4 separate regions of the Homo sapiens genome follow, and regions 2, 3 and 4 are each linked to region 1. Evidence: fine-mapped expression QTL. A gene starts in region 1. Each other region holds a variant in brackets. All regions are shown on one strand. Distances are between the middles of the regions. Region 1 holds the start of ALKAL2 (ALK and LTK ligand 2). Region 2 has its middle 69 kb from the start of SH3YL1. Region 3 holds the start of LOC124907599 (a long non-coding RNA gene). Region 4 holds the start of LINC01865 (long intergenic non-protein coding RNA 1865).

Region 1 (8,102 bases):
GAAGTGTGTGCTGCTGGCCTTGGCGTGAGGATGATGTTGCTAAAGGTATGGTCAGAGGGGCCGAGGCTGCGTTCCATGCATCTTTGTGCGGTGATGTGAATGCTAAAAGTGCATGTGCCTTAGCCTTGTCCAAAACGCGCTGGTGACGCTACTTCAGTGGGCCAAGGTTCATTGGCATGCACCCGGCACACAGAAGCAGCTCTATAAATGATGGTTATTATTATTTGAAGTAATTTTGCTGCCTAAACAAAGAAAAGCACTTATACTTCGTGTACATTGGCTTTTCGTTTGTTTGTTTTTGGAGAGGGAAGGCAGGACAGCAAGTCCGGAACGCTGCCTGGTCCAGCTGGAGAGCCCTGATGACAGCAGTTAGCAGGATGCCTAGTGTTTCTGCATGACTTTTCTCCTGTGAGCCTTAAATAAAATCAAAGTTGGAGTCCGAATTAAAAAAAATGGGTTAGGGCCCTATCACTGTAGCTAATAAGGCTTCAGTGAAGAGAACAAGGAGCTACTTTTGGAGAAATAAAATGTTTTGTTATGAATAAATAGCCAAAAGCAGGTTAGGAAGACTGAAAAGAAACAGGAGAGAAAGCTACTGCTGAGAGCTATGTTGATAAGGGCAGCTCTGCATTTCTGAAGGAGTGATGGAGCCAGCCAGAGAAACAGTTTTGAAATCACAATGAAATTCCTGGGTGATGAGGTTATAATTACCAATGGGAAGAAAAAGTCTCTGGTAAGAGCAGTGGAGATGATCCAGGTCAATCTTATTCTTGGAGTCAGTTTAGCAACTCATTCTTAACATCTGACTGCCATAGTAGAGTACACACAAACATGGGCATTGGAGGAGAATTAACAGGAGGAGAATCGGAGTTCAGCCCATCCCAAGAGCCTATTATTCCAATGACTGTAAATAATTTCCAGTTTGGCGTTAGCTGATGCAGAAGTTAGTTATCTTCTGCAATGGTCTGGCGATCTTGGCCCCTAACTCCATAGTGAGGAAGGAATAGGCAAATTTGAGCTAAGAAGGCAGGGGCCTATATGAGGAAATGGAAAGAGGGGAACCGCTGCCTGCACTGCTCTTGCATTTTATAAAAATCCAATGCTGTTACTTACATGCAGGAATGGTGCAGTCTCTGGTGTTGTGATAAAGTCTATGGAAGTGTTTGCTGCACTTTGGACTAAAATAAAGAGGGCCTGGAACACGGAAGAAGAAACAGATCATGAAGACTCACAGGTGAAAAGGAGCTCTGGGAGACGTGAGGAACGAGGAGAAAACTTACCTGTAAGGTGTTTTAGAAACTTGTCCTTCATCCTCAGATCTCGAGGAACAATTTCTGTTTCAGGGAAAAGAAAGTATTATATTACCTGAAGGACGCATTTTTTAAAAATGTGATCTTAAGTGAATGTTGAAGAAAATTGGAGCTCCATATTAGCCAAGTTGCTTTGCACAAAATAAAAAAGACTGGGGCCCTGGATTGCAACACACGACAGTGAAGAAGACTCAATATCAGGGACATTTATTTTCCTTGAAATAACAGTAACTGCTCCTGAAGCTCCAGGATTATGTCGGCTGTCTACCCCGTGGGATGCAGACAGAGACCACGAAGTTACAGAGGTAAGAAAACTGTTTTTTTTTTCTTTTAAACATTTAACTTCCAGTGAATAAGTCACTTTTAGGCACTTTAGTTTTAAGGACCTTGGGAATCAAATCCCACAACATTTCAAAGTTTTTAGAGAAAACCTGACCCTTCAAACAAAAAAATGGGTTACAGAACATTACTTTATCTAGATACATATTTAGAGTAAGGATTAAAAGACCACGTTTCAGTGAGGTGTAAATTAGTGGGAATATGCATGAACCTGGTTTGTAGGGTAAGAATCCCAGGGAAAGACTCTGCCAAGCAAACTTCTTCCACCAGGGTTCTCCGCACACAGTGGGTGGGGAGAACCCTGCAAGGGCGTTCTTCTTGAGTTCAGCTTTGTTTTTGCGTATTTACAGCCCTCTCCATCTTCACTCCCCCGTTCAGGGCTCCTGGCTGAGCCCCGACTGTGTGTGAAGTCACGCCCTCTGAAGAGGAGCATTCGCATCCACAGCTGACCCCCTAGTGAGTCTTCATTCACTCCTAACTTGACGCAGCCGGGATAAAACTGACCTTATCATGTTTGACCTGATTGTGTCACAAAAGCATTAGACGCTTTCATGCTTTCCTGGGAAATTCCCCGTGGGCCACCACTCTGGGCAGGGCCATGAAGGAGCCTGGATGCTTCCTTTTCAGTTGGGAAAGCTTTGCTGGAAATGCTTCCATTTCCAAAGTGACGGTTGACAGTTTAGTGTGGAAACCACCGACCCGCGCCGCAGCTCACGCGCGCCAGAAGGAGACCAGGCGCTTCTCCGCCAGGCCTCATGCGCGGACCTATTGCTGCTATTTTCTTTTTCTTAAAAAAAAAAAAAAAAAAAAAAGGAATCCTGCTGTTCAGTGGTCAAAATTGATGTCTCTTTTTGAAACGTGTTTCTCAAAGACAATTCTATTTCCCAGCAGCCCCGGCCCTCGGGCGCGCTCGGCCCCACTCACCCACTCGCTGCTCCGGCGAAGGCCCCAGCCCCGCCGCCTCCGCGCGGCCCAGGGCGCAGTCCCGCCCGAGGAGCTGCAGGCCCTTGTGCTCCGCCGAGTGGTGCTTCCGCAGCTCCTGGACGAGTTCCACCACCAGCCGCAGCAGCGCCTGTCCGTCCGCCGGCTCCCGGGGCTCCGCGCCCCCCCGGCCGCGCCCCGCCGCCCCCAGCACCAGCAGCAGCCCCAGGAGGAGGGGGTGCCCGGGTCCGCGCATCGTGCGCTCGGGGCCGCGGGGCTGGGAGACTCCGACACGCGCCGAGAGCTGGGCTCGCTGCGAGAGAAGGGGCGCGGGGGGCCGGAGAGAAAGTCAGCGGGGGAGGGGGACGGAGCGCGGGGCGGGGGAGGGGAGGGGAGGCGGGAGGAGCCGCTGGCGCTGGACCCGGCCCCTCACCTCCGCGGACCCCGAGGAACAAGCCGGCAGGTGAGGGAGCCGCGGTCTCCTCGACGATCACGCCCGAGGTCCCGCCCACGGGGAGCGACCGCCGCTGGTGCGGAAAGGAGCCCCCGGAACCCGCCCGCCCGCCAGCCCGGCCCCTCCTAACTTTCGCCCGAAAGGCCGCGTCCGCCGAGCGCGCTGCGCCTGGCGCGGGCGCAACTTTCTTTCCCCTTTGGAAGCCGCGGGTGCCAGGCAGCTCCCCGGCCGCGGGCGGACCTCGGAGGGGCCGCGCTCCCGCGCCTACCGCTCTCCAAGAAGGCGGCGCCGCGCGCCGGGCCCGGCGGCCGCGCTCAAGTTTCCAGCGTCGCCTTTGCGCGGTGGTCGCCGGCGAGCGCCGAGTCCCCGAAGCCCACGGAGGAGGCCGGGTGCGGACCCTCGCGCTGGCCCCGGCCGCGCCACGTGCTGGAAGCCCCTCCACCTCCCGGCCATGGCGCCCTCCCGCACCTGCCCGGCGCCACCCGGGAGCCACCTGCGCGTCGTGGCCGGGCCGGTTACCTGGAGCCGCCGGAGTCGTCGCCGTCTGTGCGCACGTCTGTCCCCGCGCCCCGAGCTGCGCCACTACTCCATGCCCGGCGGGCGGAGCGCACGGGACGCGGGGACTCGGCCGCTCCGAGCGCTGGACCCACGGCCGACCTGGGGTGCGCCGGCTCCGAGTCCCGCCTCAGACCTCGGGGAGCTTCTTATCCCCGCGCCCGCCGACGTCAGGCGGGTCCCCAAGGGCTCCGAGCGGGGCTTTAATTAGAAGCCGCTGAAGTGTTAGTACCCCCATGCGGATCTTCGTCAGTCCCCCCGCCTCACCTCGCTCTCGCCTCCCCCCGTCTCCCGCTCCCCCTCAACTCCGCCCCCGCCCCCGCCCGGTCCCCCCACCCGCATCTCCACCGCGTCTCCCCCTCGCCCGCGCCCCGTCTCCCGCGCCCCTTCCCTCCCCACCTTCCCCATCTCCCGTCTCCTCCTCTCCTGCCCCACCTTCCCCCACTCCCCGTCTCCTCCTCTTCCCCCTGTTCTCCTCCCCCCGCCCCTCCCCCAGTCTGTTTCCCTCCGTTCCTGTCACTTGTGACAGGATGAGAAGAAACGCCTTTACCAGGAACTCGGTTCTGTTTTTGTCTAAATGTAGATCTTGGGCTATTAAAAAGGGAGCTGCCTGATTGCTTCGACATTTAATAAGTCAATTAGAGTCCATCCGTTTTGGAGGGATCCGCTCTCCGGACCTCGAGGGGTCTGCCCCGCCCGAGCCCAGTCCCCAGGTTCGGGTCCCCAAGCCCTGGTCCCCGAGGCGGGGCGGCCAGGAGGCAGGAGATGGGCGGGTGAGGACTCTCCACGGCCCCCGAGGTGCGCACAGCTGACCACCCGAGGAGGGGCAGGACCTGCACCCCCTCCCCAGACCCCCTGCGAGAGGACGAGCGAAGGTCCCTCCCCGGCAAGGACCGCGCCATCTGCGCGCTCCTCTGCGCTGGACCCTCGGCCCGCGGGTCCCTCGCGCCCCGGCAGGGAACGCCCGCAGGAGGGCACTTGCCTCCCGGACTCGTCTTTAAGAAAGTTTGGCTCTTTGGCCGAAGCCCGGCACATCTGTGAAAGTTCAGCAATTTGCCTCTTTTATTTTATTCTTGTAAAATGTATTATCAATCAGTTGCGCACTTTCCCATTCGATTGGTGCTTTCTGGGCAAGAGCTGGACGTCTTCCAAGTCCGCGATCTGTTTGGGAAAGGTGTTCTGAGTGCAATCAGAGAGGCGGAGTGGGCGAGAATTAAAGGCCTGCACCATGATCGGGGCAGTCGCAGGACCGCGGCGGGAAGGTGCTGGCCCAGGCGCACGTGAGCGCGGGCGGTGCGGGCGGAAGGCTCCGCGCCCCGATCCCCCAGCTCCCGGAGAGGCCCCGTCTGCGCCCGTCCCCGCGTCCTTTCTCTCTTCCTGCACGGGGTCTGTCTCCTCAGGAGGAGAAAGTGTCCGGCAGAGCTGGGCGGGGAGGCAGCGTGGAGAGAGAAGATATGAAATGTGCCGGTTCCGGACCCCGCCCCACACCCTTGGGATCTGCGTTCTCTCCGCTCCCTTGAAAAACAGATGGTTTGATTTCACAGCGAGGCTTTTCTTTTTCTTTTTGCAAGCTACATGACTGAAATGTGAACATTTCTGCTAAAATACACTCAGGAAAAAGTAAAATTTTATGTCAAACAGACCTTAGGCACATAAAAGGAGGCATTTTTCGTTTCTCTCTTTCCCCTTCCCATGTCCAAGAAGACACTTGAGTTCCACGGGCAAGAGCGACGCCTGGCGATGGAACCGGCCCTCCCCGGCCCTGCTCCCGGTCCTGCTTGCCGGGCCCACCTCGCAGCTGGTGGACACCGCAGTTCCCAGAAAAATAGAACCATGAGAAGATTTTACTGTTGTAAAATAGCTTGGTGTAAGACAGTTTTTCAAAAAAATCTTTGTATGGTAAAAAGAAGAAAACACATTTCACGTATTATTTTAAATTTACATAGACCTATTAGAATAGTATTTTATAAAATCAAAAGCTAAATTTCTTCTATAAAATGCTAGTAGGATCTATTTCCCCCAACACACACAAATTCTACCTACCGAGGAAGCCTTGCTAGTAATTAATATTATGTCTTTTCTTTTGCAGTTTTTAATGGGACAAATGGATTCCTTGAATGAGCCCTTTCTACCATCCAAGTGTGGGCCAAGACTTCCGCCCAGGTTAGTAGAGGTTTGGTGGATAATCAACAGCAACAGAGCTGATGCTTGGTTGGTCTTTGGATTAATGAGATCTTACAATTAAGAGTCAGACAATTTATGTGTTCATTTATTTTTACAAAGTTCTCTGCCAAAATTATCTAGGTGCTGCTCATTTTATATTATAGAAACAATTTTTACAGACTAACAAACTTAGAGTGTACCACCGATTTGTTAATCTTTATTGAATTTTTAAGTTAATGGTATTGTCAAGACGAACCCCTTGGAGTTCTCCAGTCATCAGAAATAGGTGTGCAGTCATCCCTTGGTATAGCGTGGGACTGGTTCCAGCAGATACCGAAATCCAGGCACATTCACGTCTCACAGTGGGGCCTGTGGAACACGCAAATACGGAAAGTTGCCCTCCCTCTGTGTGCGTTTCGCATCCTCCAGCTGCTGTGTTTTCGACCCACGTTTGAAAAAAAATATGTAAGTGGACCCCTTCAAACCCGTGCTTTTCAAGCAGGAAGCCAAAAAGAAAAGAGATACAATTAGCAACAAACTATATTCTAGAATTACTGGAAAAATTTTTTTCTAGATTTGATTTAGTTTGGTTATCTTTTTGAGAAAACTGTGTTGGATCATAGGAAGAAAACCGAGCAGAGGAAAAAAACCTGTATTTAATCTACCCTAACAGTACTATATATAGGTCCTGAGATGGGTGAGTTGATTTTTTCAATTCATAAACAGGTTAAAGTTCTGATGTTTTGACTGCAATCATTTTTTTTCTTCATCCAGAGGGTACGTATTTAATTTTAGATGAATATTAGCTGCCCTCAAAGACTTCTAAAATACCTGTGTTAACCACATGCTTTAAAATGAATTGTTATATTTTTCAATCATTATGGCAATCATTTAACAATCTAACGAAGTTTGTATTGTAGAAAAAAATCACCTTTCATAAAGGATAACATCATGTACTATAAACAAATATTGCTTACTGTTTAATATTTACCAATTCTGCTTTTTTAAGCTATCAAAATGCTATTAGTGTGCTAGGCACGTACTAGACAGTGTTTAAAGCATTTAGGAAGACAAGCTTTCTAACAGGATTAATTTTCCTAGTATAAATGTAATAAATATAGACTCTTACAAGTGATAATGTATGCATGATATCTGCAGCTTATTCTAGATCAATGAAGTACAGCATTCTATGTAACACTTCTCCCCTTCTAGGGAGGAAGAAGATGATTCCAAAAACATGGTCATCCACCCCTTCCCATTCTTCAACACTGCTTTTGCATCTGCAGATGCACACGGCTATGCATGTTCAGGAGAGAAATTAGGTGAAAGTTGTATTTAAAGGGTTGGGATAAGATAGCATGGCTGATTTACTTTTTTAAAAAATTTATTGTTCCAGGCCAAGATAAAGAGGACTTTTCATGGGGAAAGGCTTAAAGGAAGTATGGACTTTACGTTGTTCCTTCAAACTGGATTTTAGTTATAAATTCTGAAACCACTGTGATGCTTACTTGCCATTTGGAGGCACCAATCTGACATCTTTTGATGGAAGTAGTAAGAATAAATTTGAAAGAACACACCAATCATCAACATATCAGAAAAATATTATCCATGACAATATTTCAACAAAATATAGTCATAGATGCTGAGTAACAACACCAATATATCTGCATTCCATCTGTTTTCTGCAGGAAATCAGATATCCTGATCAGAAGTGACACACACAATGATCTAGGTTCATCACAGAGACATCCAAAGTGTCATAAAGGCACCACCTACCAAAGTGGGTTGTTGTTTGTTTCTAGGATAAGCTAAGCACAGTGATGGGGATGCCTCCTGGATAGAGGGAACTGCATATGCAAACTTCCAAGGAGGAGGCCCCAGAACCTCTTGGATCTGCTGGGAAGACTGGGCTGTAGGAAGAGGGTGGGAGGAACAGATGGAGAGTCACCTCACCTGAACTCCACTTTCTTTCAAGAATGCAGCATAGCGGACTGCAAAGGACGTGGGCTTCAAAGCCACAGAAATGGGCTCAGGTTCTGATTCCTGCTCACATCTGTGTGAACCTGGGCAAGACAACTTCTTTGAGCCCAGTTTTTTCATGTCGGAAATGACAGGAGTACGTACAACCTCAGAGGTTTTATAAACATTAAATAAGATAAAGTATGTTAACTTTTTAGTATAGTTTAAATTTCTTTTAACTGACCAATTATTGCTATTACTGCCTTTCAGAGTGTCTGCTGTCATAATGGCCTCTTTTTTCCTGTATTTTATCCCTTACAATATGGCATGAAAGAGAGCATTATCCAATCCTAGAGAATGTCTGGGGCATCAGAATTTGGTGACTTGTTCACAGCTGCATA
Region 2 (8,102 bases), 94 kb before region 1:
CCCTCTGGAGTTGTTTGCTCTGCCCGTCTGAAGTTGTTCATTCCTCCCAGCGGGGGTGGGTTTGTGGTTTGAAGCTGCAGACCTTCACAGTGAGTGTTACAGCCCGTAAAGGTAAAGCACACCTAAAAAGTGAGCAGCAGCAAGATTTATTGCAAAGAACAAAACTTCCAGGAAAGGACTGCAGCAGGTTACCTCTACTAGCTGGGGCAGCCTGCTTTTATTCCCTTATCTGGCCCCACCCACATCCTGCTGATTGGTCCATTTTACAGAAAGCTGATTGGTCCATTTTACAGAGAGCTAATTGGTCCGTCTTGACAGGGTGCTGATTGGTGCGTTTACAAACCTTGAGCTAGACTCAGAGTGCTAATTGGTGCATTTACGATCCTCTAGCTAGACATAAAAGTTCTCCAAGTCCTCACCAGATTAGCTAGATACAGAGTGCTAATTGGTGCATCCAGAAACTCGAGCTAGACACAGAGTGCTGATTGGTGCATTTACAATCCTCTACCTAGACATAAAAGTTCTCCAAGTCCCCACCGGACTCAGGAACCCAGCTGGTTTCGCCTGGTGGTTCCCGTGCCTGGGCCGCTGGCAGAGCTGCCCGCCAGTTCCCAGCCATGCGCCCAGCACTCCTCAGCCTTTGGGCGGTTGATGAGAGCAGGCGCCACGGAGCAGGGGGCGGTGCCCGTTGGGGAGGCTTCGGCAGCGCGGGAGCCCACGGTGGGGCGGGGGGTGTCAGGCATGGCAGACCACAGTTCTAGAGCCCTGCCCCGCAGGGAGGTGGCTGAGACCCGCAAGAATTTGAGCGTGGTGCGGGAGGGCCGGCAGTGCTGGGGGACCCAGTGCACCCTCTGCAGCTGCAGGCCCAGATGCTAAGCCCCTCACTGCCCGGGCTGGCGGTGCTGGCTGGCCACTCCCAGTGTGGGGCCCGCCGAGCCTGTGCCCACCTCCCACCAGCACTGTGCACAGCCCTGGTTCCCGCCTGCGCCTCTCCCTCCACACCTCAAGGCAAGCAGAGGGAGCCGGCTCTGGCCTCTGCCAGCCCAGAGAGGGGCTTCCACAGTGCAGCAGCGGGCTGAAGGGCTCCTCAATCGCGGCCAGAGTGGAGGCCCAGGCCGAGGAGGCACTGAGAGCCAGCAAGGGCTGCTAGCATGTTGTCACCTCTCAGTATGGCCATTATCAAAATAACAGAAGGTGCTATATGATTCCACTAATATGAGGTATCTCAAGTAGTCAAAGTTGTAGAAACAGAAAATAGAGAGGTGAAGGGCTGGGGGGTTGGGAAAAGAAAAGGAATTAGTTCTTAGTGGGCATAAAGTTTCACTTCTGCAAAATGAAAAAGTCTAGGTACCTGTTGCACAACAGTGTAAATATACTTGACAGTGCCAACCTGTTCACTTGAAAAGTTTAAAATGATAAAGTTCATGTTATATGATTGTGACTACCATTAAAAATAAAATAAAAAATTTAAAAGCACATGTATGCTTGCCAACTTTGGGACATAATTACCCAGAATAGTAGAAGCTTTATGACATCAGGTTAAAAAAATAATAGCGAAACTGAGGGTCCTCTGGTTTCCGTCCCAGGACTGCCCTCATCAGTTTCAAGTTGCTACCTGCATTGCCCGGTGACAGCCACTCGTCTTTCTGTTCCACTGCACTTGTTTCTTTTTCTTTCTTTCTTTCTTTTTTTTTTTTTTTTTAAGACAGAGTCTCCTGGGTTCAAGCAATTCTCCTGCCTCAGCCTCCCAAGTAGCTGGGACTACAGGCACACACCACCACACCTGGCTAATTTTTGTGTTTTTAGTAGAGACAGGGTTTTACCATGTTGGTCAGGCTGGTCTCAAACTCCTGACCTCGTGATCCACCCCTCTTGGCCTCCCAAAGTGCTGGGATTACAGTTATGAGCCACTGCGCCTGGCCTACTGCACCCATTTCTATCGGCCTCCTCCCCAATCCCCATCCCATACCCTGATCAGCCACTGCTACGCTGCCGTAACTGATAGAGGCAAAGTCACTCGATGAGGGCAGACAGCTGTGTACTCTGCCAGGCTACCCAGGGGAAAGTTGGGTGGGCTTGAGGATGGAGCGTAGTGGCCAGATCTGTGATTGGTGAAGATATTAGAGAACTAAGCTGGAGAGAATTTGTGTTGTTGTAACTATGATGGAAGAAAAATAAAGAAAATTCGGCATGTTTTCTTGGCCAGGGACTAACACAGAAAGAAGAACACATATCTAACACCTCCCTTTAAATTTTTTAATGCACCTTCCTTCCCTGTGAAGAAACCCGGTGATCTATTATAGAACGAGATTTGCTGGAGGCCACCTGGCTGCTGTCAATGGGGCAGTCAAGTCTTCCCAAATCTGAAAACTGCGCTTTTTACATGTTACCACACCAAGGGTCTTTAGCCCTTTGAACACCTTAGCAAGTTCTCCATTTTAACCTAATGGTGCAAAACCAGGGAGGATGCCGTGATGTTAACACTTTTACCACAGAGTATGTTGCAGCCGACGTCTGTTCATTCCGTGGTGAAGCTTGGGGTTTTCCAGTTCTCGGTCCACGAAAATTAGCTGTAAAGGTTTTCTTGCTTGTGGAGGCAGCCGCAGGCCATGTCCGACTTGTCAGCCAGACACAGAAACTAACTTGCACCTCATCCGGCAGCGCTGTGTGGGGCACCCTCCAGTCTGTTTTCGGCCCTGAAACCCGTTAGTCATCCCTGCATTTTTGCCAGTCCTTTGTGGGCCAGCAGAGGCCTGTGAAGAATTTAAATCCTTAACCGTGCATACTAATGCCTGGAGGCTTCCAGAAGCCCCGTCCAGCTGCGTCTCACCCGGAGCCCAAGGCAACTATAAACAGGCCACAGAGGCAAAGTTCTGCTGCTCAAAATTACAGCTCCTCCCGGGGACACTATTTCCCTTCTGAAAACATCTGGCTCCCAACGTTTTCTAGCTTTGAGGGAGGCAAAGAGAGGGTTATTTTAGAAAATTTTTGTAACTTTCCAGTTTTACATGGTCTTGGCCCTTCTGTGGCCTGTATAGACATTTTCCCATAACTAAGAACATACCATAAGCCTGAGGAGAAGGTCGCTTTTTATAAAAAAAAAAAAAGTCACTAAGCCTCCAAAAGTATCTTGTTTCTTGCTAGCTCACAACCTGTGTTT[A/G]ACGGATAACAAAACACATAGAAATTAATTCTTAACCATTGCCCCTGTGGGTGTTTCGTTTGGCTCTGGGTACACAGGGAAGGGAGAGCTGGGCAAAGATGGAGCCGGCGGTTCCTGGACCACCAAACCAAGCACGCTGGAGACCACATCTGCCAAAAGTGTCCCCGTCACACTACAGCAGGAGCAGTGTCTTCCCGGGTTAGGGAGCTTGAAAAGGAAGAACCTTCTGTTGTCGACATGGGCAAATGTGTGACTGTAAATGTCCCAGGAGCCTGTATTGTTATTGTTTGTTATTGCCTGTCTCTGTGATATTGCACTGCACGTCACACGCTCCTTTAATCAGTCTAGAGGCTACATGTTTAGAACTTTACAAATCATCTAGTGCAGAAACAATAATGAAAACCGAACCCAAACCTCAGAATTCTTTTTTAAAAAAATCAATGTTAACATTCTTTCTACACTAAGACCATGTACCTGTATTTTCCCACACACGCGTTCAGTTTGTGATCATATGTGTGACATGTTTTCCTTCATTCTGATCATAGTTTAGGAATATATTCGGGTATGTAATTTATTTCACTTTCTATTATAAGCATGTTAATGTGTTGCTACATAATCAACATTTTATTTTGATTATTGAACAATACCCTAAAGCTTGACTGCAAGACTTACATTTACTACTGTTGTTTGATATTTTTATCACTGCAATAAACACCTTTTATTATAGTTTTCTCCTTCTCTTTAGATTATTTTTTTGAGATACATTTTCATATGTCCATATATTTAGGCAAGTAATATTAGAGACAGGTATTGTGTTTTTACTAACTACTGTTTACTTGGAAGGCTTGAAATAGTGTGAGTTGAACCATCCTCATTCCTGAGTTAGAGGAAAAACTGTCCCCCAAGGTATCTGTGTCTTCACACATTCTTTACCCTTCGCAACTCTTAGTGGCACCATGTCTCTCCGGTGAAAGGGCAAAGGCCCTCTGTCTCTCCTCTCAAAGCACCCCCACCCATGCTGGTCCTTCCCCACAGCCGTCTGCTTCCAAGCTCCTTGCTGCATTCCTTGTGAGGGGAAATGGCCCCTGCAGGGTAAAGGCACGATGCTTTGCAAATAATAAACCAAAAAATCACCTCTGACTTGGGTCAAGCAATTTGACAATGCTAAGAATAAATGATGCACTTTTCAGAGCCTCCTGTTAATCATCGGGAACCTTTCTGGGCTCAGGGTCGGCCCTCACTGCAGTTCCTGCAGGAGTTACTGGCCAGGCCCAACCAGGCACCAGCTCTCCTCTAACTTCTTGACTCAGCTCTCAGAGGCTGGTCAGAAAGGCACGACCTTCCCCCAGAACCACCTTCCCAGGCTCCACGACTGGAGCAAATCAGATCCCACTTTCCTAGGAGAGTCTCCTAAAGGCCTGGAACGTGGCCCAGGCCTTCTTTAAAGTGTTTTGCCCCAGAGAGGAGTGTTTTTGCTTCTACCTGGTACCAATCTTTCCATTCTAGAATTAGGGCTTGCTGGGCCACAGAGACAGCATGAATTGAACCCCAAATCAAAGCACTGAGTTGAGGAAGACTCTGGAGTGATATTTTTGGTCTCATTTCCCCTCCACCAGAATTCAAACAGAGTGATTATCCTGAGGGTCTGTCCCCTTTTCTCATGCTGTAATTGTCCCCTTTGCAGGACTCAAACTTACAAAGGCCATTTCCACCGCCCTCAGGTGAAACCTATGAACCCCCATGCCTCGGCCACATTTTCCTTCTGGGAAAATCACAGCCTCAGCCAATCAAGGCTGCCTGTTCTTACAGATTCATACCTCTAAGACTCACCTTATTTTTCTACTTACACAGTCATAAATTTTAAAATGTTCTGTTTGTTTTTATTTTCCTGGCACTTTCTGTGCTGGGAGGGCTTCCCTAGTTCACAGGTTCGCCATGTTGCCAGAACGTGGGGCCCTCTCTCTTGTTCATTGTTCATTGTTATTAAGGACGTATGGTAGTTCTCAGCCAGTGTAGTGTCCTCTCTGTCTTCTCTGTGTTTCAGTGAAACACAAATCCAGACTCGCTTAAGCAGAGAGTTTACCTGAAGTTCTCATTTTGAGAGAGGGAGGGGACTTCATGACACAGGGTGAATGCTCTGACCCCAAAGAACTTCAAGCATCTCAGGCAGAAAAGCACTTTTGTTTTAGGAGGAGGGAGTAACCAAGCCTAGAACACCTGGGTGAGGCATGGAGGGGCCCGTGGCGCAGTGGACAGTGGGCAGGAAATGGGTCAGCCCACTGGGAAGAGATGGAGGGGAGGGTGGGGTCCCCATCGCAGCATTCATGGGTGGGCTTGGCCGAGAGGAGAAGCTGAGTCGAAGTTCGGCTAACAAGTATTTTTTTAAGATAGATCAGTGGAGTCAAAGCAGTTCAGCTACACATCTGTGGGACAAAAATGGGAATGCAGAGGGTCTGATTCTGGCCCTGTCACTGGTGAGTCTTGTCTGTGTCATGTGGGGAAGGTGGTTCTTTTCAGTGGCTGCTGGAGCTCAAAGTTGTGGGAGGGTGGCTCTTAACTTGCCCTCTTTTCCCCATCACAGGGCAGGGGAAAGTCCGATGTTGGCAGTAGTTACTGAAACAGATTTTTGTCCCTGGTGGATTTCATTTGGTGTCCAGAGTTTAACTGTTACGGAGTTCTCTATGCTACAATTTTGTTGAGTTCATATTTCAGGGGCCCTGCTGCTGTGTACGGTGGCCTTCAGCCAGGACGTGTCTTGGCCCTGGCCGTGAGAGCCATCTGGGCTGGGTGAGGCTGTGCCCACCTCAGAGGTGGGGCCAAGGACCTCTGTCTTCTCTGGTGGAAAGAGCCCTTCTCAGGGTCTAAACAGAAACATGGGAGCTTTTGTGAAACCATTATAATCTCCTGGGAACAGAAGCTTAAGGGTTTTAGTCTCTTGATTTTTAGTATTAAGGAGTTTGGGATTGTATGCATACATCAAAACTCAGTCTTTCTTGGCTATATATTTTATAGCTTTAAAACTCCTATATTAAATAACCCTTCCAATACTGCTACAAATTAAAAACCTGGACCAAGTGGACCTCAACTAACTACTGCAGCCACCCCTGCTGGGGGCAAGCCAGAGCCCACTAAAACAGGACATTTGGCTACATTTACAGGGCTGTTTAAATGATTTGAAGCAACAGATGTGTATATTGACTTGGAAGGTTTTGCAGGAAACTGTGTTTCAGTACTTAAATAGCATACTGTAAGGGCTGACCTTGATCCAAGGGGTCACAAATGTCACCTCGTTGGGAGGTGTCTTTTCCAGGATCTACGTTATAATTATGATCTCCTTGGAAGCACCAGGGGAGAAATTCCAGATGGTTTTGCAAGGATAAAGTGAGAGCAAATGAACATCCAGGTTATGTATTCTTACTCTATTAATTTCTACTTGAACTCATTTTTAATGTGTTTTTACTAATATTAAGAAAATAAGCCATGATATAAAGTGTTGGAAAGGAAAACCCTGACTGCACACCCCAGCCCCGTAACAGAACACAGAAACGCGCAGGGCCTTTTCCCTTCTGTCTGCCTTTCCGGCCTCTGGACACAGAAACGCGCGGGGCCTTTTCCCTTCTGTCTGCCTTTCCGGCCTCTTGACATGGAAACACGCGGAGCGTTTTCCCTTCTGTCTTCCTTTCCGGCCTGTTGACATGGAAACGCGCGGAGCCTTTTCCCTTCTGTCTGCCTTTCCGGCCTGTTGACGTGGAAACGCGCGGGGCCTTTTCCCTTCTGTCTGCCTTTCCGGCCTGTTGACGTGGAGACGCGCGGGGCCTTTTCCCTTCTGTCTGCCTTTCCGGCCTGTTGACGTGGAGACGCGCGGGGCCTTTTCCCTTCTGTCTGCCTTTCCGGCCTGTTGACGTGGAGACGCGCGGGGCGTTTTCCCTTCTGTCTGCCTTTCCGGCCTGTTGACGTGGAGACGCGCGGGGCCTTTTCCCTTCTGTCTGCCTTTCCGGCCTGTTGACGTGGAGACGCGCGGGGCCTTTTCCCTTCTGTCTGCCTTTCCGGCCTGTTGACGTGGAGACGCGCGGGGCCTTTTCCCTTCTGTCTGCCTTTCCGGCCTGTTGACGTGGAGACGCGCGGGGCCTTTTCCCTTCTGTCTGCCTTTCCGGCCTGTTGACGTGGAGACGCGCGGGGCCTTTTCCCTTCTGTCTGCCTTTCCGGCCTGTTGACGTGGAGACGCGCGGGGCGTTTTCCCTTCTGTCTGCCTTTCCGGCCTGTTGACGTGGAGACGCGCGGGGCGTTTTCCCTTCTGTCTGCCTTTCCGGCCTGTTGACGTGGAGACGCGCGGGGCCTTTTCCCTTCTGTCTGCCTTTCCGGCCTGTTGACGTGGAGACGCGCGGGGCCTTTTCCCTTCTGTCTGCCTTTCCGGCCTGTTGACGTGGAGACGCGCGGGGCCTTTTCCCTTCTGTCTGCCTTTCCGGCCTGTTGACGTGGAGACGCGCGGGGCCTTTTCCCTTCTGTCTGCCTTTCCGGCCTGTTGACGTGGAGACGCGCGGGGCCTTTTCCCTTCTGTCTGCCTTTCCGGCCTGTTGACGTGGAGACGCGCGGGGCCTTTTCCCTTCTGTCTGCCTTTCCGGCCTGTTGACACGGAGACGCGCGGGGCCTTTTCCCTTCTGTCTTCCTTTCCGGCCTCTTGACGTAGTCTACTTTTACTCAGCTCCTGTCATAGTGCTTGTAAGGTCGTGTATCCTAAATTTTCTCTAAATGATATATCATAAGCACTTTTCTATGTTGTCATTTAGTTGTAGTAATCAACATTTTAATGACTAAGTGATATTTCAGAGCATTTCAACATTCCTGAATAAAATGATAATATGGCCGTAAAAACAATGAGGTTGTACCACAATAGAAGAAATATAACTCTAGTCTTTAAGAAAGAAACGTTACTACCTGTGTG
Region 3 (8,102 bases), 140 kb after region 1:
CATCACCCACAGCTACGATGGAGTGGAAGACTCAATCATTAAAAGTAACAGATTTTTACTGAGCCAAATTATAGAAGCCTGAGGCCATAAAGGCAATGTTAAAAATTCACTCTTCCCCTGATTGTTGTAGAAGAACACACAACAAAGTTGAACATGCTTGAATGTAAATTTTCTCACCATGACTTGTTGTAATATATTACATTATCAAGGAACATGAAAATGAAATGTGCTTTTCTAGTTTTTCGGATGCCATTCTCTCAGTCTCTGCAAGGCTTGGGAAGTGGCCAGCCTGAAGGACAACGAGGCTGTGTCTGATCATGGGGTGCTACTGAAAAAAGTGACAGAAATGTTGGAATGATGTACGATGTCCCCAGCGCTCTGAAATAAAGGAGAGCTGCCTCCATTTCCAAGGCAAGAGGTGGGTATGGCTGAGGTGGGCCCAGGACTACACCTGGCATGGCTGTGGCCCAGCGTGCGGCTGACGCTGAGGTTGGTCTCTTCACTCCGGGGCCCAGGCTTCGCCTCTGCTCCTCGCCTTTGCTTTCCCTCAGAGCTGAACCCAAGTCGTCCTTCCCAGCTGCTCTCTCATGGTAGGGATCCCACTCAGCAGGGCGCCGTGCCGGCTTAGCACCAAGTGACCAGGGGAAACAAGACAGGGATGTGCCTGGGGAGCCTCTTCTGGGGCCCTACTTACTGCCATCGCAGGGGCCCTACGGGCGTCCTCCGGGATGGTGTCACGGGCTCTAGACCCACAAGCAGGGTTGGAGCCCCGGCGCTACCCACATCTGTCCAAGTGATATTAAACCTTGCAAGTCTTTCTTTCCTGTGAGAAATAGAAAAAGCATATTTCCTACTTTAGTGCATGGGTGAAATGAGATAACCCATCTCATGCATGAGAGTCCTGATGGGTGACCCTATAGTTCCCTGGCAGGTCCGCAGGCACGCAGGGGGCTCCACAGGCACGCAGGGGGTTCCGCAGGCACGCAGAGGGCTCCGCAGGCACAAAGGGGGCTCCGATGGCACGCCGGGGGTTCCGATGGCACGCAGGGGTTCCGCAGGCACGCAGGGGGCTCCGCAGGCACGCAGGGGGCTCCGCTGGCACGCAGGGGGTTCCGCAGGCACGCAGGGGGCTCCGCTGGCACGCAGGGGTTCCGCAGGCACGCAGGGGGCTCCGCAGGCACGCAGGGGGCTCCGCTGGCACGCAGGGGGTTCCGCAGGCACGCCGGGGGCTCCGCAGGCACGCCGGGGGTTCCGCTGGCACGCAGGGGGTTCCGCTGGCACGCCGGGGGTTCTGCAGGCACGCCGGGGGCTCCGCTGGCACGCCTGGGGCTCCGCTGGCACGCAGGGGGCTCCGCAGGCACGCCGGGGGCTCCGCAGGCACGCAGGGGGCTCCCCTGGCACGCCGGGGGTTCCGCTGGCACGCAGGGGGTTCCGCTGGCACGCCGGGGGTTCCGCAGGCACGCAGGGGGCTCCGCAGGCACGCCGGGGGTTCCGCTGGCACGCCGGGGGTTCCGTTGGCACGCAGGGGGTTCCGCAGGCACGCAGGGGGCTCCGGTGGCACGCAGGGGGCTCCGCAGGCACGCCGGGGGCTCCGCAGGCACGCCGGGGGCTCCGCTGGCACGCAGGGGGTTCCGCTGGCACGCCGGGGGTTCCGCAGGCACGCAGGGGGCTCCGCAGGCACGCCGGGGGGTTCCGCTGGCACGCCGGGGGTTCCGCTGGCACGCAGGGGGTTCCGCAGGCACGCAGGGGGCTCCGGTGGCACGCAGGGGGCTCCGCAGGCACGCCGGGGGCTCCGCAGGCACGCCGGGGGCTCCGCTGGCACGCAGGGGGTTCCGCTGGCACGCCGGGGGCTCCGCAGGCACGCCGGGGGCTCCGCTGGCACGCAGGGGGCTCCGCAGGCACGCAGGGGGTTCCGCTGGCACGCCGGGGGCTCCGCAGGCACGCAGGGGGCTCCGCTGGCACGCAGGGGGCTCCGCTGGCACGCAGGGGGCTCCGCAGGCACGCAGGGGGTTCCGCAGGCACGCAGGGGGCTCCGCTGGCACGCAGGGGGCTCTGCTGGCACAGCCACCAGAGATTGTCTTTTTCATGTTCCCAGTCATTTTGCTTCAGGTGCTCATTTTGAAGGTATTTAGGGAGCCGCAGTTGTCTTCTACGAGGCTGTGTTCTTCCATTTCATGGTATTCGTTAGTAAATAAAAGTTATAAATTTGTATGTAGCTGAATTGATTGGCATACTTTAACATTTATGCTTCTATAAATTATTTAAGATACTATGTTATTTTAGTTTTTAATGAAGATACTCATCATTTTCCCCCTAAATATTTTGAAAATTTACTTTTTATATTAGATCTTTAATCCACCCAAAATACAGAATAGATGAACTGTCACAATTTAAAGAAAATACAACACACATAATAGAAAACTGGGCAAAAGATTAGGCAAGTTATAGAAGAGAAAAATGAATAGCTAGTACATTCATGAAAAGATTCCAGCCTCACTAACAATCAGTAACATGTGAATTTAAACCACAAGGAGATGACCCAGTGATTAAGTGGCAAATGTTTATGCCTCACAGACAAAGTGATAGAGAATGCTGTCTTCTGCTGTCTTTGGGCATTGCCTCTGCCTGGGGGCTGTGCCCTCCACCTGTGGGTTTTGTGATTTATGGATTAAATCTGCCCGGTCTGTCCGTCTTCCACACTTCCCATCTTTAGAAACTTTTCATGCTCGTTTTCTAAGTCTTGGAGGATTGTTTAGTTTTGTTTTCTGTTTAGTTATTGAATTAAGTGTCCATTGCCACAACATATGACTAATTTAACTTGTGAATCTGTGTTAAATATATGTGATTACATATTCTGCTATTTTTCTTCCTTGCTCAGCCTTACAGAGAGGGAAGTCTGTGTTGTATATTGACTTCTAATCAAGTTATGGCCTCCATCAGAGATTACAGAGGTAGGCATATATCCCTACATTTCAAATCAAGAGAAAAAATAAGCAACGATGGCTTCACCTGCAAATGCATGTTCTTTGTTCGGTGAACCAGGAGACTGAGGGGCTGGGGTGACTCTCCTCCGGGCCCCTTTTCTTCTCTCTCTGGTGAGTACTGGGCTTGGGTCCAGTGCCTGAAAAACTGCCTCACTTGGGCCCAGCCTGCCCACATGTCCTGCCAGGTCTGGGACAAGCCCCCTCCGTCCCAGTGCTTTGTTCAGCATTTTGCCACCTTTTTGGTGCCTCTGCTTCCAGAGCCTGCAAACCCATTGTGGAAAGGAAAGCAGCGGGGTCGCCCGTGCCCCTCAGCCATGCCCAGCCCCAGCCTGTGGGTTTGGACAACCCTCCCGCCCGGGTCCTTCCACTGACTGACTAGGGGTGTAGAGACACTGCAGGAATCAGAACAGTGAGTTAGTCTCTTTGGTTTGGTTCCATCTCCACTGTGTCTAGAGAAATGTCAGGAAGGTTCATGCAGTGTCACGCCATGTCTCCTTTCACATGTGGCCTTTCTCCTGTGGCCCGTGCTAATCATTTCTGTGAAGCATTAGTGGACAGAGGGAAGTTACTGGGTGACATGGTTTGGATCTGTGTCCCCACCCAAATCTCACGTTGAATCGTAGTCCCTACTGTTGAGGCCTGGTGGGAGGTGGTGGGGCCATGGGGGTGGAGTTCTCATGAATGCTTTAGCACCACCTGCCTTGGTGCTGTAAAGTGAGTGAGTCCCCAAGAGATCTGGTTTTGAAAAGTGCGTGGCACCTCCCTTCTTGCTCTTCCTCCTGCTCCAGCCGTAAAAGGCAAGTCGGCTCCCACTTCGCCTTCTGCCATGATTGGAAGCTCGCTGAGGCCTCCCCAGAAGCAGAAGCCGCCATGCTTCCTGTACAGCCTGTGGAACTATGAGTCAATAAAAACTCTGTTCTTTAAATTACCCAGTCACCGGCATTTGTTTTTTAAAGCAATGTGAGAACAGACTAATAGACTGGGCTATATTCACTCATCCTCTAGGCAAGACATGTCTCCTAATCATCTAAGATTACATTTGGATTTTAATTCTATTCAGCAAAGGGTGTAGAAAGTGTTGTGCCAGGTGCCGGTAAAGACAGGAAAATAACTGAGCCACACAGGTGCTCTTGGGCAGAAAGCAGCACTGCATGGGTCAGACCTGCCGGCTCCCTGCCGCCCTTTAGTCAGTGGCTCCAGCCCTGCCCCGGTTTGCAGGGCCTCCACCCCACTGAGGAGGGCCTGCCAGGGGCACAGCAGAGCAAGGTCAGCAGCCACCAGTAACGGTGGACAGGAAGACGTGGGCATGGGTGAGCCATGCTCATCTGAACGCCACTGAGTCAGGGAAAACAGCTGGTGGAAAGGAGAAGGACAGCATAATAGAGTAAAACACTGCAAATCGAACTTTGATGGAAGAACTCTAAATAGCAGGCGGTAAACAGAAATCTCTTTTATGAACGGGA[C/T]GTGGGCTGGTGGCAGAGACGGCAAATGGATGGTCCAGGCAAGCGCTGGTAAACAGGAAGCCACAGCCGCGCTGAGCGTGAGCTCGAAGGGCACACGGAAGCATCGCTGTCCCCCAATTTCTATTTTTTAAAATTTGAAGTAGAGCTGCTATAATAACCAGATCAAACTAGTGGACAAGAGAACATTTTGTTTCATTTTTGTGTGTGTAGTGAGTTCCTTTATTGCACACTGGATGATCTATAGGAGCAATGAATTCCATGATGAAAGAAGACTCAATAATCAAGCCATGCATTTTAGTTTTAATTGTTGTATTTTTTGCTTTTTTTTTTCACTGGAGAGAGGAAGTCTGGTTATCACAGCCTGGTTTGTGTGTTTCCCTGGCCACACACTTAAATACAAAGATCCAGAGCCCAGGCTCTTGTCTGGACCATGTAGGGGAAGAAATAAGACTCACTTGCATCCTGGGCTCAGGATCCTGCAGCCTGCGGGGTGACGAGATGCACACAGGACCGTGCCCGCTCCAGGGGGACGTGACCCTGCAGGCAGGAGTGGGAGGGGTGCCGCAAAAGGGCCCTAAGCGGGCACCACTCCCAGCCATGGCCCATCCCTCCGAACGTGAGGGCACAGAGAAAAAAACACAGTACTCACCCCCTGGGAAACTGAAATTGTCAGATAAGCTACTATCTGAGTTTAACAGGAATTTTCAGAAAATAAAATAGAGATGAAATATAATTGTTAGTGGATCACACAGGCTTCATCTCATGAGAAACAACAGCTTCCTGTTTTTCTCTTAAATTCTCTGACCACCTAAAAGAACAGAGTGGGGCAGGACGTCCTCACACACACATCCTACGAGGACGGCTCCAGGAACCACAATGGGCGAGGAGGGCTCGGGCGGCCGCTGATTCTCATGACTCTGTGGGTCTCAATGCTCCATGAGAACGTAGCCCAGCTCATAAAAGTGACCGTAAGATCCGTCTCCTCACAGCGAAGACTGAAGCAGTGCCACCAACTGTCTATCTCTTGACTTCCTATTACTTGGGGAAAAAAAGTCTCCACATATTTAAGATGCTCCAAGTTGGGTCTTTTGTTCCACAAAGGTGAATTATTTGTAACTAATTCAAGAGGATAGAATCATTACATAAAAAGTAACCATTTTGAAATCTAAAAATATCAAACAATTTTTATAAGCATAACGTGAAGTAATCAGATAACCAAAGTCAGTACATTTGACTGCATAGATGTCAATTCACAAGCCCTGATCTGATGAAGGTCACCCATGCATGACGCTGGCTGGGGGCCGCACTGCCACACTACTCTGGGAGTATGAATCCATGTGGCCCTTTGCACGATCAAAAATCAATGTGCATGATCACCTGAGCTTGCTTACCTTCTCTTACCCTACGTTTCCATTCCTAAATACACACCTGAGAAAAATTCTAGCACACTTTTGAAATGAAAAATATAAATAAAAAGAATTGCTTTTAGAAGTATAATTTGTAATGATTTATACCGGTGAAAGATATCGGGACATCTCAGGATATAAAAAGAGAATATATAAATATTTTAAATACATTTACACAGTATAGTAGTATGCATTAGTGAAAAAGAATGGAGTATAGTTATTCATGACTTGGATAAATGTTAGAAACATAATATTGAGTGAAACGTTATCACTTAAGACTATATAAAATATAGTGTGTTTATAAAGTTCAAAAATGGCAACTTAAACAAAAATGAGTAATTATGGTATAAACAAGTCTAAGTCACATTCGAGAGGGGAGTCATTGTTGGGTTTGCTAAGCCTTAGGCTGAGGGGCATCTTTATCACCTTCCATGATTTTCATACAAACATTAAGACCCGATCATCATGCAATACATGAGGTCCCTAATTTAAAAGGTGTAAATGTGTTGTATTAGTATGGCGAGGCTAATGGAAGGCAGTATTCATTTTTTAATCTGCCTATTATTTTGGGGAGAAAGCCAAAAGAAAAACTACCTTTTGAATATTAGTCCTTCTCGAACTTGAATCTTCTCGAATGTAGGAACCTCCTGAGTATTTTGTTAACATTTGGACTCTGGTTCAGCAGGTCTGGGTGGGCTCTGAGGTTCTGCACATCCAGCCAGCCTCCAGGAGATGTTCATGTGCCACACTTGGACTCACCAGACTGTGCATAGAAGCTCTTCAGAACGTGGAGAATCCTAGCCCCTTCCCATGTGAGTATAAGGAACGGTGTTTAGTGAAAAGATAAAACTGGATCCATTCCTCACAGTGTATCCTAAGATAATTTCCAAATGGATCATATTGAAATGCAGGAGATGAACCCCTATACAGAAACATATATCTATTATTTTATTCCCCATGACTCAAAATCCAGAGGCAATAGAGGAAATGTGGTAGGTTTCATTATATGGAAAAATATCTACATGGTAAAAAGCATAAGCTAATGATAAATGGAAAATATTGACTGACAAGTTATATCACACACGAAGGGTTGGCAGTCCATCTACATTAAGAACTTCTAAAACCACAGAACAGAAAGACCAATAAGCATATAAAAATACATTAAGTATATGAACAGACTGTTCATAGATAAAGAAATGCTTTTTTAAAAATACTGAACTTCATTCATTACAAGAAAAACACCAATTAAAACTAAACTAAAATAAAAGCATTTCTTTAAAAAAGTAGCCTCTTCTGTTGACTATAAGACAGGGCGTTCTTTTACAAGCTGGTGGGAATGCAAAATGCTAAACTGGTGTGAGTGGGAAGTTTTGCAATATCTGGCGAAATATTATATCATTTTTCTCTAGAAAAAGCAATCCTACCTCCAGGGATTTAGCCTTCTGAGCACAAATACTAGAAGACGTATGGGGCTCAATTTGCAATAGAATTGCAAGTAAGCAAGCTAGAAAACAGCCCGGCTGTCCCAGGCTCTGTCCTGGGTGTGAGATTGAAGAGGAAGCGATATGGCATTTTCACACAACATAAAAATATGCAGTTACAAAAATGAGTGAGAAATATCTCTAGCATATGTTAAGGGAAAAAGCAAGGTGAAGAAAAGCATGTAAAGTATTGGAAACATTTGTCCATGAAAATAAGAAATATACATGCTTATTTGCTTATATTAGAAAACATGAAATGATAAGTTGCACACACTATTCCCTGGAACCCGTCACCCCGTTTTTACAGCTATGGATCCATAGCTCCTCCAGCTTCACCCGTAATTCTCCGTTCATTTACTAGAGAAGAAATGTCAGGCATTCTATCAATCTCCTAGGTCTGCATGAGGAATCCCCGCAGACGAGGTGGCTAAAACAACAGAAATTCATTCCCCCTCAGTGCTGGTGGCCTGAAGTCTGAGATCAAGGTGTTGGCAGGGTTGGTTCCTTCCACAGGCTTTGAGTGAGAACCTGTTCCAGGCCCTGCCCAGCTCCTAGTGGCTGCCAGCCATCCTCGGAGCTCCCCAACTTGTAGACATGCCCTCCAGTCCCCACCTCAGCCTCCACACAGTGGGGCTCCCTGCATCCCCTGCACCTGAGTCCAAATTCCCTGTTTTTATCACATACAACTGGAGAGTCATGCTGGAATTAAGGCCCACCCTGACCCAGAGGACCTCATCTGAACTTTATTACACCTGCAAAGCCTATTTC
Region 4 (8,102 bases), 30 kb after region 1:
AAAGTCCCCCGTGTGGGATTACGGGACAGGCGGCGGAACCCCAGTTTAACCCTGGGTGTGTTTGGGCACGCAGCCATGCCGACTAGAAGGACCTGAGATGGATTCGGTTCGCGGGGAACGGAGGTGCCCTAGCTCCCGTTCACGACCGCATCTTAAAAAGCAAAGTGAGCCAGTTTTTCGCAAAGATGATTTCACTGGATTTCCGCGTTTAGCGTCACGATATGGGGGCCTCCGAGCGCCTCTCTGGGCTTCCACACAATGGGCCACATCACGTTTCTGACCAGAGAAACACAGGTATCTGTGCTTGTAAACATCTGGAATTTAATTCGGTGGAAAAAATAACTTGTGGGGAGGGTGATACACATCTAGGTCTGTGTTCAGCTTGGGGGCTTGCCAGCCAGTGGCTTTTTTATCGTCTTTAATCCTGGGAGAGTTGTTACTGAAAGAGGTAGCATTTAGTGCAGCTCACAAATGCGTAACAATCCCCCACTTCAGTGAATCCAAAGAAAACACAGAGATTACAAAGCACCGTTTGAGGCCGGGATCAGGAGGCAACCAAGACAAATAGGTTTCTGTCCATTTGGACAGGAGCTTTGGGGGCTCGCCTGTACTTCCTCTCTCACTGGCTTTAGGTGACTAAACCTTGGGGCTATTCTGTCACTGCTGTGTAGAGCTGGCATCGAGGTCGAACCTGTTTCTTCTTCGAAATCTCTTGAAACAACTGCTGCTGACTGGGAAGGTACGGAGAGGCTTGGCTGCAGTGAGTGAAAGGCTGTCTCTCTTGACGGTGTGGCTCTGTTCCCCAAGTTGAAAACATTGAGGCGTCTGTCTGCAGCCCAGACACCTGCTGGGGGTCCCTCACCACCGTGGCCAGACCCTCCTGTCTTCTGGTCCCCTGTCCTGGAGGCATCTCACTGCCACCAGGAAGCTTCTCTGGGTGTGGGGGGGCAGTGGCCCCTGGACAGCTGACTTGTCAGGCTTAGAGGTTGCTTTGGTTTTGGCTTTTAGTGTATTTGTTCTTGGATATGGTTTGGCTCTGTGTCCCCACTCAAATCTCATCTTGTAGCTCCCATAATCCTCACGTGTGTGGAAGGACCTGGTGGGAGATGATTGAATCACAGGGGTGGGTCTCTCCCATGCTGTTCTCATGGTAGTGAATGGGTCTCACGAGATCTGATGGCTTTAAAAACGGGAGTTTCCATGCACAGCTCTCTCTTTGCCTGCTGCCATCCACGTATGACGTGATTTGCTCCTCCTGGCCTTCTGCCATGTTTGGAGGCCTCCCCAGCCACGTGGAACTGTGAGTCCAATTAAACCTCTTTCTTTTGTAAATTGTCCAGTCTTGGGTATGTCTTTATCAGCAGCATGAAAACAGACTAATACAGTTTCTACATGCATTTATTTAACACTTAACTAATTTTCTCACTTGGTCTTCATGAAACAGGTGTCTTTGAATTGAGGAGAGGAGAAAGAAGAGGAATGATTTTTTAAAAACCATAAAACAGAGGTTACCCAGTGCCTTCAAGACTAAACTTTATTATAGTTTCCACAGCAAGTAGCTGGAGAAAGTGCAACCAAGGCTGCAAAGTGGACAGCCGTGCAGTGCGCAGGGTGCGGGAAGGCAGAGGGGTGGCCCCGTGGCCCCTCAGCCCAGGAGTCTCGAGCCAGTGGCTCTTGGGGCTGTGGGTTGAAAACAGGCCAGCAGCTTCTAGCACGTCCCTCGCGGTGTTCTTCACCTTCTCCCAAGAATGCATCCCTCGCAATGCTCTCTCGTGTTCTCTTGAGGATACGCGGCTTTTGGCCATGGCAGCAGGTCAGTGCCCACAGGCTAGGATGCCAGCAAGCACCTGGGGGGCTGTGGGGTCAGCAAAGCTGTGTGGTGAGACTGGAATGCACCTACTGTGTTTCTGATAGACTGCTCTGTTTAGCTGAATGTTTGAAACATGGCAGATACTCAATAAATACTTTTAATGGTTAAATCAATTCATTTACTTCATTTGACCAAGAGTGGAAATTTTAAACAGGACATTGGGGAAAATTTTCCATCAGAAAGGTTTTTAATTATCTTTAAATCAAAATGGTTTACTTAGGTGATATTGAAGGCCCTGTCTTAACACAAAAAGCTATTTAAACAGTGTTACAATGGTTATTGCAGAAAGACTGTTCAGAAGAGCCTCATTAATAAAAATAGCAGTTAATATTCCGAGAGGAAGATTCTCTTATTAGGACAACCAGCAAGCACTCACCAAAAGACAGGGTAGGCCCAGAGTGTGTCTATTTGTTATGGGGACCCAGACAGTGTTTCCTGTATGAAAACTGAATAGCGCTTGTAACTTAGGGCATATGCTTTGCATATTATGGAATAGAGTTCAGATGGGATTTTTGTCTCATTGCTGAATAGATGGTTATGGGGCGGAAATAGGGGGTGCATGAGGGTCACCGCCCACCTTGGTCTGAGAGCATCCTCGGAAACTTGAATGTAGGTGGCCTGAGGGAGGCCTGGATGGTCCTGAGCTGCCCGGCATGGGCCAGTGTGGCTGAAACAAGTGATAAGAAATTTAATTTAACTCCCTGAATAGTGGAAAATGGACGAGTTTTGTCGAGCTGAGTCAGGGAGGAGTGTTGTAGGAGGCGGCGCTTGAGCGGCGAGAGAGATGCAGACTCGTTTCCTGAGCGCGGTGGAGCCGGGTCTTGACCCAGCGGCTCTGCACAGCTCGCCTCATTCAAGGCAGGTTTTGGTCCCAGCTGTTCCACTAATTAGCACATGACCCCGGCAGGCAGCATGACCTCCTTGACCTCTGTCCTGTAGGACCCCTGCAGGCTCCGTGCAAATTCAGTTAGAATGACTCACCATTCTCCCAAGTAAATGGTATTTTTCACTTTTTGGCAAAACCGTTTTCTCTTGTACAGTCAGAGCTGTCAGCCCACACAAAAGAGGAAAGTCTGAGGCTTTAGTTTGATGAACACATTTATATGATGGGACGAACATCAGAGCCCGCAGCTCTCGGCCCTGCTGGTGGCAGAGGCTTTGTACTGTGTGACAATGACCTGGATATGGAAGCAGAAGGGAGCTTCTAAGGACCGGAAGCTGAGAGTCTGTCTCCTGTCCCGGCCCGGACACTGGGGTTCAGGTAAGAGGGTGGAAGGACATTGGCCAGGTCAGGGCTGCCGCGATGGTGCTGTGATGGTTACGGCTGCATCAGGGTCTGGCAGGAGCTGGGCTTCGCCTGGAGGCTCCCAGCTTCTCACAGCCCCTTGCACCAGCTTTCAACAGGGGGATTGCAGGAGAAACACTTGATGAGTCAG[A/G]GACGGGATGTGGTGTCAGGGTGACACACACACTTTCTCAGTTTCAGGAGAACTTGTCTGTCATTTTGGCAAAAAGTTTTTCTGTGTTTCTAAAGAGACTGGTTCTTTCTTGTTATCCCCGAGGATCCAGTTCCTGTTGCCCTGCAGCTAATCAGCTTCACCAGACATGGACCTCCAAGCTTAGGGATGCATGAATCTGAAATCCAAGCCATGGTTGTAATAGTGATAATATGAGGAAAAACTAAGAAACCAGATTTTCACATTGCTTTCGGAATGGAGCAACAAGCAGATGCTTGTACAATCTGGTGTCAGCCAAAAAAGAGCCTGTTTCAATAAGCAGAAATAATAAAATACTGAATTATCCCTCTTTTTGAAAAAGAACTAACCAGTTACAGTGCAATATCAGAACACGTTTATTCACTTGCTCTCAATAAACGCGAGTGTGAATGTGAGTGAAGGCGGTGAGCTTCGCTGCTGAGCCCACGTGGCTGAGTGGCGAGGGAGGCCGGCAAAGATGTGCCCTCGTGTGTCCACATTTTAGGAACACAGGAGACAGGCCTCGCTGCCCACGTTCCCCTGCTAGTAGAAGACATCTGCTGGGCATGTGTGTGTGTGTGTGTGTGGTTGTGTGTGTGCGGGTGTGTGTGCACGGGTGTGCATGTGTGCGGGTGTGTGTGCGGGCACGTGTGCAGGCGTGCGTGCAGGCGTGTGTGCAGGCGTGTGTGCATGGGTGTGTGTGCGTGTCGTGTGTGGCCCTGTGTGTGCGGGCGTGTGTGTGGGCGTGTGTGTGTGGGCGTGTGTGGGCACGTGAGTGTGGGCATGTGTGTGCGGGCATGTGAGTGGGCGTGTGAGTGTGTCTGTGTGTGCGCACAGGCGTGTGTGCGGCTGTGTGCGTGGGCACGTGTGTGGGCGTGTGTGTGGGCATGTGTGTGGGCGTATGTGTGTGGGCGTGTGTGGGCGTGTGTGTGTCGTGTGTGCACAGGCATGTGTGCGGCCGTGTGTGTGTGGACACGTGTGTGTGGGTGTGTGCGGAAACGTGTGGGGGCACGTGTGTGTGGGCACGTGTGTGCCTGGGCACGTGTATGCGGGTGTGTGTGTGTGGGCGTGTGTGCGGATGTGTGTGTGGGTGTGTGTGGGTGTGTGCGTGGGTGTGTGCAGGCGTGTGTGCAGGCACGTGTGTGCGGGTGTGTGGGGGTGTGTGCGCGGGTGTGTGCAGGCGTGTGTGCGGGCACGTGTGTGTGTGGGCGTGTGTGCAGGCAGAAAGCACCAAGATGTAAACAGCTGGCGCTCACTTGTGCACCACCAAAGCTAGAATGTTTCATCTCCCCTGGTGGCTTAGTAAGTGACAGAACAGCACCAAGATGTAAACAGCCGGTGCTATGCTTGCAGGGAGGCTGGAGGGGTACAGCCACTCCCCACACCTGCCACAGGGTTGCTTGATTTGAGCCGGCACATCCGGGGCCCACACCCCCTTCACCTTGGACCTCACGTGCAGTCAACGCAGCATGTGCTCATTAGGAAACGGAGATTAGAATGCGGGTTCCATTTTAGATTGGACTTGACACTTCAAACATCCTGAAGAAGTTGTTGTCTAAGGGTGCTGTGCGGTGGGACTGAGCTTTTAATTAAAGGCAGGTGGGGTCACCGCCTCCTTCATGTTCAAAGTTCTCAGCTACACAGTGGAGGAGGAGAGCTCAGGGAAGGAAAACTTTTAGTGTAGTTTTTTTTTTTTTTTTTTTTTTTGAGACAGGGTCTCACTCTCTCGCCTAGGCTAGAGTGCAGTGGTGTGGTCACAGCTCACTGCTAAGTTTTTAAGAGGTAAATTTCCGGTGGGAACTCCTGATCCATGCTGGTTACGGCAGGACCTAGAGCCTGGGATGCTCTTCCTGGGTTTAGGATTCAGCGAGCAAGGCCTGGTCTGGAGGAAAAGCGCCAGGCAGTGCCGTGGTGACTCCAGGGAGGGGCTGGCCACGTAGAGGTGTGCTGAGAAACTGTCTACCGCACCGCTTTGTACCTTTCATTCCATCCATGGATATATTTTAAAAGTTTGATTGTTATTTTTTTTTTATAAAAGAAAGAAAAAAGAATTAGCAAGCCTTTAGTAATAGGAATCCCAACTCTTTTCTATAAACTTGGGCCACTCTTTCTCTTCCCCCATTTATCATCACGTAAAATAAAGAAACAAAAGCAGAAAACATTTTTTCCCTAGGCTTCTACATCTCTGCTCCAACTTGGTTTGCCTGGTGGGCCTGGGGCACTGCGTCTGTATTCCTGGATGAGCAGGTGCCTCCTGACTTCACAGAGTGATGCCAGCTGCCATGGGCTGCTCCCCACATCCTCTCTTCATCTCTGAGCGCTTTTCACAGGGAGGTTTCATGCTTTCACCCCAGTCAATGGGGCTCATGCTTTCGCCCCAGTCAAACCTAGCCTGCTGGTCCTGGGTGCAATGTGACATCTGAATTGTACCTGCCTGGTTGTAGGTACCAACTAATGGATGCTGATCTTGACCACATCCTTCTCGGAAGTGGCTCTGGAGAGGCTGCTGTGGAAATTGTCATCAGGTGATGTGAGGTTAGTCACAATGGGCGATCAAAACTGTTGCTGGCTTAGACCCATATTCATCTCTTAAGCCTGTCAATTCAGAAGCTCTGCACATTGCTGAGAAAGGCAAAGGCCACAGCAAGAGAGAAAAAGACTGGGGAGAGAAAACCTCTAGACATTCAGGTCTTCCTGACAGCCAGTGCGAGGTAGCCCATGTGGAGATGCTCTGTCCTGCAGCACAGATGTCAGCTTCCGCTCCATCTGCAGTGACGGGGACCATGTCTGCAGCTGGAGCCATGGACCAGGCTAAATGGGATAGATTTCCACTCAGCCCCGAGCCCTCAACAGACAAGGATCCCATCTCACTTCTCATTTTTCTGGTGACCAGCACAGCCCGAGACACACAGATATATTATCTGCGGGTGTGGATAATGAACCCCAGTTACACAGCATTGAAAGCCCAGGGTCGTGCTCACTCGTGGATGCTGGATAATGAATCTCAGTGAAATGACCCTGAAAGCCCAGGGTCCCGCTCACCCGTGGGTGCTGGATAATGAACCCCAGTGACATGGACCCAAAAGCCCAGAGCTCTATCGGAGTCACAGAGTCCCTGCAACTGGGAAATCACCCAGCGCTGACGTTTTAGGCAAGAGTTGAGACAATTCATGAGGTTCCATGGCCTACGTAATAATACTTTTGGTAGAACATTTTAACCTATATTTATAGACAATCTGATAGCCATGCCACAAAAGAAATTTAAAAGTATATTAAGCATCTAAAATAATATTAATGTGTAGACATTAAAACACACTTACTTTGGATTTGAAAAGATAAGGTAAAATAAGTTGCATAAAAGTCTCATTCAGGCGATACATACCAATACTTACACCATTTGCTTTCAGGGAAGTGTGCTCTGCCCCCTGTGTGGATGCCTGTGTCCTGTGTGTGGCTGGAGTAGGACTTGGCTTGTGGGTGATCACAGAGACGGAGACTGAGAAGCAGATCGATCCTAGCTTTGCTACTGACAAAAAGCATGGGTAAATCACTGTTCTCTACAGTTCTTGAATCCCACAGGTGAAAGATGGAAATGTGTGTACAGGTTCCACCCACTCCACCTATGGCAAATCATGCAAAAAGGTCAACTGTGATGTATAAGGTCATTTTTTACCATACTCATCTGCGATGTCTGGCCAGGCATAAAGAGAGGCTTTTTTGTCCCCAGATAGAAGGAAGCCATGGATGGCAGAGGATGCGCTCAGGGGGACAGAAGGATGTGAGTGGGGCAGGTGGGGAGGAGCAGGAGGGATGTGGCTTTGGAGTCAGAATCCCAGAGTTGTATTCAGACTATGTGACCCTAGGCAAGTTTTACATTTCAGCTTCCTTGTCTGCAAAACAGGAACAAGAGTCCCTATCATGTAGGGTAATTGTGTACATGAAGTTAGCTCATAAATGAAAAATGTTTAACCTGGTGTCTGACCTAAAGGAACAATTGGTAGTAATTTATCCTCTTTTCCAATGCAGCAGGTAGTGTGGTGTTTCTCTTTCAGGCTAGTAGCCGTGCCATAAAATAAATTTAAAAGTATATTAAGCATCTAAAGTAATATTAATGTTTAGACATTAAAACACATTTACTTTGGATCTAAAAAGATTAGTATAAAACCTGTCTCAGTCATCACGCCCACCTTCACTTGCTGCACCTCCAGGAAGCAGCCGGGTGGCAAGAGAGGCGAGAGGAGCCATGTGACAAGGAGGGTGCGTGGGAAAGTGGGCCCATCCTGAGGATTGGCCATTATAAATACCGCTGTAAGACACAGGGCAGGCTCACCAGGACTGCCCTGCTCCAGGGAGCTCTTGGTCGAGAGCATGCAGAAGGAAGGGCGTTGCGCATGTGATACTTTGATTTTGAGATCACATGAAGCAAACAGATAGGGAAAACGTGTTGCTACTTTGGGAAACTGGTGAGAAGGATGAGAATCTCAAGATGGAGTGGCAAACCTACTTTAAAGGGGTGATCAGCTATGGGAAGACTGTCTTCCTGCTGCAGGACCCTGCGGACCCTGCTGACACGCTCATGTTCCCTTCCCTTTTCTAAGCTACACCGGGCAGTGTAAACTCGCCACCCACACCTGGCCTGTCACCACTCATGTCACCGGCCTCCCAGGAACACTCCACTCAGCAGTCAGTTCTTTGAAGTCTCTAGATGCTTCAAGGCCAGACACTTGAGGGCCTTTTTGTTTGTTTGTCCCTTATAGCAC

What was found.
Region 2: its variant is fine-mapped to the expression of ALKAL2 in lung (TOPMed, PIP above 0.99).
Region 3: its variant is fine-mapped to the expression of ALKAL2 in whole blood (TOPMed, PIP 0.95).
Region 4: its variant is fine-mapped to the expression of ALKAL2 in whole blood (INTERVAL, PIP above 0.99).

The regions. Positions count from the first base shown.
Region 1 is chr2:285,010-293,111 of GRCh38, forward strand. It overlaps ALKAL2 (ALK and LTK ligand 2), which reads right to left and starts at 3,082. Exons shown (of 6, transcript NM_001002919.3): 1 at 3,004-3,082; 2 at 2,574-2,883; 3 at 1,281-1,334; 4 at 1,114-1,194. The coding sequence starts at 2,826. It overlaps LOC101927262 (a long non-coding RNA gene), which reads left to right and starts at 920. Exons shown (of 3, transcript XR_007085917.1): 1 at 920-1,615; 2 at 5,669-5,742; 3 at 7,139-8,102. LOC105373346 (a long non-coding RNA gene) reads right to left here. Exons shown (of 6, transcript NR_189079.1): 6 at 5,932-6,111. RefSeq lists an enhancer at 1-856 and a silencer at 2,597-2,646.
Region 2 is chr2:190,732-198,833 of GRCh38, forward strand. No RefSeq gene overlaps it. Among named protein-coding and RNA genes, the nearest start is that of SH3YL1, 69 kb to the right of the region's middle. RefSeq lists an enhancer at 6,871-8,070. The variant A/G (reference allele first, on the strand shown) is at 3,161.
Region 3 is chr2:425,539-433,640 of GRCh38, forward strand. LOC124907599 (a long non-coding RNA gene) reads left to right here and starts at 2,879. Exons shown (of 2, transcript XR_007086058.1): 1 at 2,879-3,393; 2 at 3,773-3,912. The variant C/T (reference allele first, on the strand shown) is at 4,448.
Region 4 is chr2:314,933-323,034 of GRCh38, forward strand. It overlaps LINC01865 (long intergenic non-protein coding RNA 1865), which reads left to right and starts at 1,352. Exons shown (of 4, transcript NR_146953.1): 1 at 1,352-1,813; 2 at 2,911-3,131; 3 at 6,750-6,884. RefSeq lists an enhancer at 1-312. The variant A/G (reference allele first, on the strand shown) is at 3,307.